2 linked regions of the Homo sapiens genome follow. The protein of the gene in region 1 purifies or fractionates together with the protein of each later gene. This does not show direct contact. Each region holds a gene or a part of one and is shown in the gene's direction. Other genes may lie near its edges.

Region 1 (5,579 bases):
TCTCACTCACTGATGCCCTCTGATCATCTCTGGCCACCTCTTCTCTCTCTCTCACTCATTGATGCCCTCTTGATCATCTCTGGCCACCTCTTCTCTCTTTCTCACTCACTGATGCCCTCTTGATCATCTCTGCCCACCTCTTTTCTCTCGCTCGCTGATGCCCTCTGATCATCTCTGGCCACCTCTTCTCTCTCTCTCACTCACTGATGCCCTCTGATAATCTCTGGCCACCTCTCCTCTCTCACTTGCTGATGCCCTCTGATCATCTCGAACATCTCTGCTGCCTTTCCTCTCTCCGATGACCTCTCCCCGCACCATCCTCCTGAGCAGCTGTCCTGGGCTCCCACTGACTCTGCCATGTCTGTCCTTTTCCTCCTCTCTGACCACCTTGCTGGCTTTGGGCCGTTTCTGACCACGTGTCTCTGACATGGTCATCTCCCCCAGATCTGAGCCCAACCCATGCCCTCCCTTCTCTTTGTCCACTGCTCATCTTCCTGACCATCTGTAACCCCTTCTCTTCTCTGGTCATATCTGACCACTTCTGATCATTGTTGCCACCCTGGCTGCCCCGTCTCCCCATGGCCAGCTTTTACCATCTCTGACCACGTCTAAAGCCCTCTGGTTTTCCTGCCACTCACCCAGACCAGCTGTCATTTCTCTGACCATTTCTTTACTTTTTTCTTTTGGAGAGACAGAGTCACGCTCTGTTGCCCAGGCTGGAGTGTGGTGGCGCAATCATAGCTCACTGCAGCCTCAAATTCTTGGGCTCAAATTGATCCTCCCACCTCAGTGTCCCATGTAGCTAGGACCACAGGTGGGCGCCACCATGCCTAGCTAATTTTTAAAAATTTTTGTATAATAGATACACGGTCTCACTTTGTTGCCCAGGCTGGTCTTGAACTCCTGGCCTCAAGCCATCCTCCTGCCTCAGCCTCCCCAAATGCTGGGATTACATGTGTGAGCCACCGCGCCTGGCCTTCCTCTGGCTTTTGGTCACATCTGACGGTCTTTGACCAGCCCTTCTGCCCTCAGCCCACTGTGACCTTCTCTCCTGGTCTCAGACCACCCCCAGCCCCTGCAGAACCCCTCTTCTGCCCTCACGCCTCCCCTCTTCTCCGCAGGACACCCCTGCCCGCGATGGCCATCCTCCCGTTGCTCCTGTGCCTGCTGCCGCTGGCCCCTGCCTCATCCCCACCCCAGTCAGCCACACCCAGCCCATGTCCCCGCCGCTGCCGCTGCCAGACACAGTCGCTGCCCCTAAGCGTGCTGTGCCCAGGGGCAGGCCTCCTGTTCGTGCCACCCTCGCTGGACCGCCGGGCAGCCGAGCTGCGGCTGGCAGACAACTTCATCGCCTCCGTGCGCCGCCGCGACCTGGCCAACATGACAGGCCTGCTGCATCTGAGCCTGTCGCGGAACACCATCCGCCACGTGGCTGCCGGCGCCTTCGCCGACCTGCGGGCCCTGCGTGCCCTGCACCTGGATGGCAACCGGCTGACCTCACTGGGCGAGGGCCAGCTGCGCGGCCTGGTCAACTTGCGCCACCTCATCCTCAGCAACAACCAGCTGGCAGCGCTGGCGGCCGGCGCCCTGGATGATTGTGCCGAGACACTGGAGGACCTCGACCTCTCCTACAACAACCTCGAGCAGCTGCCCTGGGAGGCCCTGGGCCGCCTGGGCAACGTCAACACGTTGGGCCTCGACCACAACCTGCTGGCTTCTGTGCCCGCCGGCGCTTTTTCCCGCCTGCACAAGCTGGCCCGGCTGGACATGACCTCCAACCGCCTGACCACAATCCCACCCGACCCACTCTTCTCCCGCCTGCCCCTGCTCGCCAGGCCCCGGGGCTCGCCCGCCTCTGCCCTGGTGCTGGCCTTTGGCGGGAACCCCCTGCACTGCAACTGCGAGCTGGTGTGGCTGCGTCGCCTGGCGCGGGAGGACGACCTCGAGGCCTGCGCGTCCCCACCTGCTCTGGGCGGCCGCTACTTCTGGGCGGTGGGCGAGGAGGAGTTTGTCTGCGAGCCGCCCGTGGTGACTCACCGCTCACCACCTCTGGCTGTGCCCGCAGGTCGGCCGGCTGCCCTGCGCTGCCGGGCAGTGGGGGACCCAGAGCCCCGTGTGCGTTGGGTGTCACCCCAGGGCCGGCTGCTAGGCAACTCAAGCCGTGCCCGCGCCTTCCCCAATGGGACGCTGGAGCTGCTGGTCACCGAGCCGGGTGATGGTGGCATCTTCACCTGCATTGCGGCCAATGCAGCTGGCGAGGCCACAGCTGCTGTGGAGCTGACTGTGGGTCCCCCACCACCTCCTCAGCTAGCCAACAGCACCAGCTGTGACCCCCCGCGGGACGGGGATCCTGATGCTCTCACCCCACCCTCCGCTGCCTCTGCTTCTGCCAAGGTGGCCGACACTGGGCCCCCTACCGACCGTGGCGTCCAGGTGACTGAGCACGGGGCCACAGCTGCTCTTGTCCAGTGGCCGGATCAGCGGCCTATCCCGGGCATCCGCATGTACCAGATCCAGTACAACAGCTCGGCTGATGACATCCTCGTCTACAGGTGCAGGGTCCAGGCACTGGGGTAGCTTGGGTGGGGGAGTGAGGCAAGGGGAGGGTTGAGGGTACACCTACTAATACCCTACACCGAAGCACAACTGATAAGTGATGCTGGAAGGTTCCAAAAGAAATCAGAGAGCAAAAGTAAAAGAAATCAGGCAGCAAGGATAACAAGACTCTGGCAGAAAGGGTCAATGAAATCTGACAGCAGTGATAAAAAGAAGTCAGACAAGAAGGACGAAGTAAATGAGACAGCAAATGTTAAAATATATCAGGCTACAGGGCTAAAAAAGATCAAGCAATAAGGATAAACGAAATCAGGCTGCATGAGTAAAAAGAAATTAGGCAGCAAGAATAAATAGTAGTAGCAAACATAAAAAGGAAACCAGGCAGCGGGAGGAGAAAGTAATCAGGGCAGAAGAATAAAATGTTAATGGGCAAGGGTGGGTGGGGAAGATAAGGGGATAAAAATAAATTTAAGTTGTAAAGATAAAGAGAGAAACACCAGGTTTTCCAGATGACAGGACTAGATACTAGCTGGGCTGCAGGAAGAAAAGGAGATCAAACAGGAAAGCACAGGGAGCCCAGAAACAATGAAATAAGCAGCTCTGTTAGAAAAAGAAATCAGACCAGAGGTTAGAAGGAAATTGCAGGGAGGAGGTTCGATAGAGACTGGGCTTCGGTGTGTGTGGTGTGAACTATTCCATGTTTCAAGTTCTAATATAGTGACATCCAGATTTTTTTTTTTTTGAGACAGGGTCTCACTTTGTCGCCCAGGCTGGAGTGCAGTGGTGCAATCTCGGCTCACTACAACCTCCACTTCCCGGGTTCAAGCGATTCTTGTGCCTCAGCCTCTCGAGTAGCTGGGATTACAGACGTGCACCAGCACGCCCAGCTAATGTTTGCATTTTATTTTTAGTGGAGACGGGGTTTTGCCATGTTGGCCAGGCTGGTCTAGAAGTCCTGACCTCAGGTGATCCACCTGCCTCAGCCTCCCAAAGTGCTGGGATTACAGGCGTGAACCACCACACCCAGTGTAGATTTTTTCTTTTCTTTTTTTTTTTGAGACGGAGTCTCACTCTGTTGCCCAGGCTGGAGTGCAGTGGCACAATCTTGACTCACTGCAAGCTCCGCCTCCCAGGTTCATGCCATTCTCCTGCCTCAGCCTCCCGAGTAGCTGGGACTACAGGCGCCCGTCACCATGCCCGGCTAATTTTTTGTATTTCTAGTAGAGATGGGGTTTCACCATGTTAGCCAGGATGGTCTCGATCTCCTGACATCGTGATCCACCCGCCTCGGCCTCCCAAAGTGCTAGGATTACAGGCCTGAGCCACCGCGCCCGACAGATTTTTTATTTTCTAAATCAAATCAAACCTAGTTCAAGTTCCTTTTGCCAGGTAAACAGAAATATCCAGTTTGCCACACTTGTGGGGGATTCTCTTCTCTCTCCTGTTGTTGCAAACACAGAACCTGGGGTTTACACACTCCAAGAGGTGGCTCAGTCCAACTTGTTCCCCCAAGCTGGAGAGCACTCAGCACATCTGCAGTGACCGCATGTGGTCAGCAGTGGTGGCTGCTGACCTAGGTGCTGTTGACACCTCTTACCAAAGTCCAACCTTGCATGGATGGACTGCGGCTGTGGGTGAGTCCCTGTCCTCACGGCCAGGCTGGGCCAAGGGTGCAGCCCCAAGGCTGACTGTAAAGACTGGACCTCCCCAGGGTTGAGGACTGTTCCTTGGGGACCTAGTAGTACCTGGATGTCCTTTCCCTCCCTTGGGGCCAACACCTCAAGAAAAGGCCACTTGATTTCCATTTCAGTCCTGGCAACCCACTGAGCTCATTCTACTCCCTTTCTCAGACATGACTCGGAAGATTGCACGGAAGTCCTGCCCCTGAAAATCACACAAGTCGGCCAGGCGCGGTGGCTTAACCCCTATAATCCCAGCACTTTGGGAGGCCGAGGCAGGTGGATCACCAGGTCAGGAGTTTGAGACCATCCTGGCTAACACGGTGAAACCTCGTCTCTACTAAAAATACAAAAAATTAGCTGAGTGTGGTGGCACGCGCCTGTAGTCCCAGCTACTCAGGAGGCTGAGGCAGGAGAATTGCTTGAACCTGGGAGGCGGAGGTTGCAGTGAGCCGAGGCTGTGCCACTGCACTCCAGCCTGGGTGACAGAGTGAGACTCCGTCTCAAAAAAAAAAAAAAAAAGTCACACAAGTCCTGGCCACCTTGCCAGGTGGGGAATGGGATGAATGCTGTCCTAGACAGTCACCCTGCCCCAGGCGGCCACGGAGTTCCCTGTACCTCTCTCATTAGAATAGCCTAGGAATAAAACAGGTGATAAGTCAACTCTCCAACAGGGTGCCCAACTACAAAAGAAACTATAGTGAAATTGGGTGGTAAGGATTAAAAGGAAACAAGAAAGAAAAAGATAAATAGAAACCAGCCAACAGAGATAAAAGAGAAGCAGGTGACAGAGCCGGAAAGAAATAAGGCAACAGGGAGAAAAAGAAAGCAGTAGTGACGGAGGCACATTAGTTTAATGAAAAGGGAATCAGACGACAGGACTCATTGGAAAACAGGCTATCAATACAGTCATCATAATAAGGCAATAGGGCTAGGGGGACATTTATTGGCAGGTTACAAGGAAATCGGGCAACAGGGGTACAGGGAGATCAGGTGGTTTGATTGGAGAGAATCCTAGCTGTACACTAGAGGAAAATCAGGCAGCTGGAAAAGGGAAATTTGGCATAGGCTGCAGGAAATAGGGGAACCAGAGGGAAATTGGCAAGCGTCTGGAGGAGACTGGGAGGTAAAATGTGGGGGAAATTGGATGGGGGTGGCTAGAAGACAAAAGGATTAAATTAGATGGAAATTGGACAGGGTTAGAGCAGAATTGGGTGGTGAACTGGAGAGATGACTGGCAGTGGGACCAGAGTGAAATCAGGCAGAGGATTGGGGCAAAATTGGGCAGGGAGGCTAGAGCGGAGCTGGGCTGCAGGCTGGAGGGAAATTGAGTGGGCAGTGCAA
Region 2 (4,626 bases), on another chromosome or scaffold:
TCTCCTTTGCCCTTTGGTGTTTGTTTTAAATAACATTGACCTTTTTTTAAAGGGTCCAGGCCAATTCTGTTGTAGAAATCCATTCATAGCCTGGATTTGTCTTAGTATTAACTCATGGTTATACTCAGATGAAACATTTTTAGTAAGAATAGTATATAGGTAATTCTATATACGTCTTATTGTAGCACAGCTAGAGACATATGTCAGGTTGTCCCATTTTTTTTGACTATAGGTTTAGTCACTTGATTAAAGCGGTGACCACCAACTATCGCCTTTGTAAAACATTTTTTCTTTCTCATTAACAAGTAATCTGGCCAGGAGCAGTGGCTCATGCCTGTAATCCCAACACTTTGGGAGGCAAAGGTGTGTGGATCACTTGAGGCCAGGATTTCAAGACCAGGCTGGCCAACATGGCGAAATCCTGTCTCTACAAAAAATACTAAAATTAGCCGGATGTGGTGGCACACACCTGTAGTCCCAGCTACTAGGGAGGCTGAGGCAGGAGAATCTCTTGAACCCAGGAGGCCAAGGTTGCAGTGAACAGAGATGGCACCACTGCACTCCAGCCTGAGTGACAGAGTGAGATTTCATCTCAAAAAAAAAAAAAGAAAGAAAGAAAGAAAGAAAGAAAGAAAGAAAGAAAGAAAGAAAAAGAAAGAAAAGTAATCTATGTATGGGATAATACTCTGAAGACATAAATACTCTTCACTTGGTGGTTTTGCCATTTCTTAATGATCCTTGTCTGAATCAGCTAATGCACTGAGGGTTGAAAAAGAGGGAATGCCTAAGTCTGTCACTCCTTCCAAATTTATTAGCTGTCATTCTTCTGTAGAGAAGAGCTCCCCATTGGAAAGATGGTGGCAGGAGGAGGAGGAGCAGGATATTCCAGGTGAGGCAAAAGAGAAAGCAGTGGCACAGCCCATAAGAAGGCAAGCCCAGGTGTGAGGAGAGGAATGGTAGGGCCAGAAGTCAGTCCAGATTGTACAGAGGAGAAGAAACGGAACTAGATGATAAAAAGATTTGATAGAAGAGACGGAGAGGACAGGATATCACTGCCATCTTCAAACTAGAAAGATTTCCTAAGCCCATATCTGAGCCCAAATCTATACTCAGCCTCCTACAGCCATCTCTCAAGACCTCAGGTGTTCTGATTGCCTACTGAGTAGTGTATTTAAGACTTTGCTACTCAAGGTGTGGTCCATGGCCTGGCAACATTGGCATCACCTGGATGCTCATCAAAAATGCAAAACCTAAGGGCCCCTCCCTACTGAGTCAGAATCTGCTTTTACCAAAATCCCCCGATGCTGGTCAGTCTTTTAAAGTGGGAGAAGCACTGCTTTAAGCCACTGTGGTCCACTTCTCACTTTGGCAGACCATGTGCTCCCAGTAAAAATAGTCTTCCCCTGAGGATTTTCTATGACTTCTATTCACTTTTCCATGAAATTTCAGGAGATTTTTCTGCTCAGCTTTATCCTGCCCTCATCTAGAGAGGCAATGTAGCAGGACATTGAAGAGCAGTGCCTTCAAAGTCAAACACCTAAGTTTGAATCCCTTCTGTGCTATTCGCCACCTGTGGGACCTTCTATAAACATTATCACATTATGAAATCACTTCTCTAAGTCTTGATGAATCCGTAACTCTTGGGGTCAAGTTAAAGGCCAAATGAAATAGTGCATGTAGAGTAACCCTCATTAAGTGCCCAATGAATTAGCTTGAAAATAAGAGGTATCCTTGGCAAAAGTCCCTTTGGGCCATGAGCCAGAGCCCACCTTACAAGACTATGTGAGGGCAACAAGGAAAGGAATGTGGACTTCCCCTGGCATATTCCAAACAGAGCTGCCTTTGATCATTTTTGGTCCACGGGGGCATTTTGTGTCCAAAGCAAATTCAGGAGCTCATTGCATCTGCTGATCATTCCTCTGTGAAAAGAAACAAGCCTTTCAAGGTATTGAGGCAAATTAAGCACATCATTAACACCAAGGCAGTGCTCAAAATAGCTATGCTTTTCAAATACTTGCTAACACTTTATAATATCTTATGATGTCCACAATAACCCAGTGGAAAGATGGATGATTAGCCATCTAACCACTGATTAAAGGAGAAGAAAACACTCCAAGGCAAGGAAGATGGTTGGGATGGGGGTCATTTTACCTGGAGACAAACAGGTTAAACATGACCATTCCTCCCTCCATACATGAAAATAACTTTATTACTGTTGGGAATACTCATCAGACATCTACAGAGGCCAAAAACAGAGGAAGTACACTTAAGGAAGTATACCTCGTTGATAACCACGGAGACAAAGTTTCCTGAGCTACTCAGTGGAGCTGAGAATGAAAACCTGGGAGAGTCCATTTGTTTGTGCCTGCATTCAGCCTAGGCACTACCTTACACAAAGCCAAGTCATTGAGCAAGATAGTTCACATTTCCTGAGCTAGGACCCAGATCCCCAGACAAGATTAGGGAGAGAATTCTAGGACTGGGGGACATCTTGCCAAAGAGGAGTTGGTGAACAACACTTAGTGTAATACCTGTTTATGAACAGTCTTCACTGAATTTCAACAGCCATCATCTCCTTAGACATTGCTTCTCCACCTCCAAATGCAGGGACTGCTTATGGGAGAGGGGAGGAGGGAGGAATGAGCTCTTCTATCCTTTGTTTCTGGAAACAGCATCTCTCCTAGGGCAGTGGAAAGTACACCAGAGAATTTCAGTCCAAGATCTGCCTCTGACTCATGAGTGCCTTGGTTTCCTCCTCCATAAAATTAGCTTGATGGACTGAAAGATGTCTCAATCTCCCTCTGGCTTTGATTGTCTAATCTTGACTACCATGGGTAGCTAGGAGAAGCTGTAAAGACCTCATCCCAAGAGCTCTTCAAAATAGGAATAGTCACGCTTCTGTCATGGACTTCCTGGGCCCTGGGTGAAGGTTTAAATGACAGGTTTCTTTCCTGTTTGAGATGCTCTGCTTTTGACATCCCATGTCTGAAATTAGGAAACCAGAATGCATTCAAGTGACAGAGAGAAAAGAGGCTTTCCTTGACCCCCATATAAATTAGGTCCTCCTCTCTGATATTACTTCTCACAGCTGTGCTATTCAAAGTGTTCTGTGGGCCAGGAGTGTCAGTATTACTCGAAAGCTGCCAGAAATACAGAATGTTGGCCAGGTGCGGTGGCTCACGCTTGTAATCCCAGCACTTTGGGAGGCCCAGGCGGGCAGATCACAAGAGGTCAGGAGTTCAAGACCAGCCTGGTCAACATGGCGAAATCCCGTCTCTACTAAAAATACAAAAATTAGCCGGGGGTGGTGGTGGGCCCCTGTAGTCCCAGCTACTGGGGAGGCTGAGGTAGAGGAATTGCTCGAATCCAGGAGATGGAGGCTACAGTGAGCCGAGATTGCGCCACTGCACTCCAGCCTGGGTGACAGAGTGAGGCTCCATCTCAAAAAGAAAAAAATGCAGAATGTTAAACTCCCCCCAAATCTGCAGAATCAGAATTTGCATTTTAACGAGACTCCCAGGTGATTCATATGCACATTGAAGTTCTAACAGCACTACCTTAAAGCACTATGATTCTTTTCCTCCATAGCTCTTGCCACAACCTGCAATTCTAATTACACATTTATTTATATTTTTTAAATGGCTGCCTTAATGACTAAAGCATAAAATCCATAGGATGTCTTTTAGTGACTAACGTAGTTCCTACCACAGACCAGGTGCTCATTCAAGGTGTGCTGCATGAATGATTCTCTAGGACTTCCCGAACTGCTAGCAGCCTCTGCAATGATGGCTGTACCAGGTTTGCTATTCTAGCCTCTCTCACTGTCCCTGTATATGTCCCTGGGCAGCTTGATGAATTTGATGATTGTGGTAAGACATTTCAATGCAGATATTTTTCTTAGTGCATTTGCACATCATGCTAATCAATGGTCACGCTTGGCAGTAAGTTGTAAGTTGTTTATTAAATTTTAAAATGTTGTGTGTTGTCTCACAAGGGCAACATAAAGGGGAATTTTGTGATATCAAGTTTTCCTGCAAACTGCATGCATAACTGAAAGACTACAAAAACTTAGCTTTGTTAGGTTAAAAGCTTTCAACTAAGGCAACAAAGTCGTAGACTGTTACAGTAGGAAGGGCCTTCCAGGACAAGTTTGCCTCCCTTCCCCTGAGAAGGTAGGGCCCAAATGTTTAAGCTGACTTCCCCCATCTCCAGATTGGTGCTGTGCCAGGGCTTTGCCTTCAGGAGACCTCCTTGACTCACTACCAACCTCTTGCACTAGAGAAGAGATCCATTCATAAGAAAACAAGCTTTCAGCGGAAGGCAAATGACAGACCTCCCAGGGAAATGTTACAATAATAGGGGAACTCCAGATGGTCCTAGTGTTCATACAGAACACTAAGAAAATAAGCTGTGGGCGGCTGCTAATTTCTTGCTTTGGTAGAGGTTAGGAAGTTGGTTTTTTCGCATACACACGCTCACACCTCTCTAGGTCTTTACTAATATTTTAATTCAATGCAATACAGGAGATTCCAACCTGGGCAGGTCAAAAGATGAATAAAATACTTCATTCCTTATTGGCAGAATATTGTATGGGTGTCTCCATGGCTGGAGAGAAAGGGGAGGGAC

Evidence for each region. Proteins that work in one complex are often made in the same cells at the same time.
Region 2: the proteins of LRFN3 (region 1) and TNFSF8 purify together in Homo sapiens (co-immunoprecipitation; one large-scale study listed by IntAct). This does not show direct contact.

What each region holds. Positions count from the first base shown.
Region 1 is NC_000019.10:35,938,289-35,943,867, forward strand, and holds part of LRFN3 (leucine-rich repeat and fibronectin type-III domain-containing protein 3 precursor), read left to right. Parts: intron 1-1,121; 5' UTR 1,122-1,137; coding exon 1,138-2,552; intron 2,553-5,579. UniProt on the Homo sapiens protein: Cell adhesion molecule that mediates homophilic cell-cell adhesion in a Ca(2+)-independent manner. Promotes neurite outgrowth in hippocampal neurons.
Region 2 is NC_000009.12:114,919,504-114,924,129, reverse strand, and holds part of TNFSF8 (tumor necrosis factor ligand superfamily member 8), read left to right. Parts: intron 1-4,626.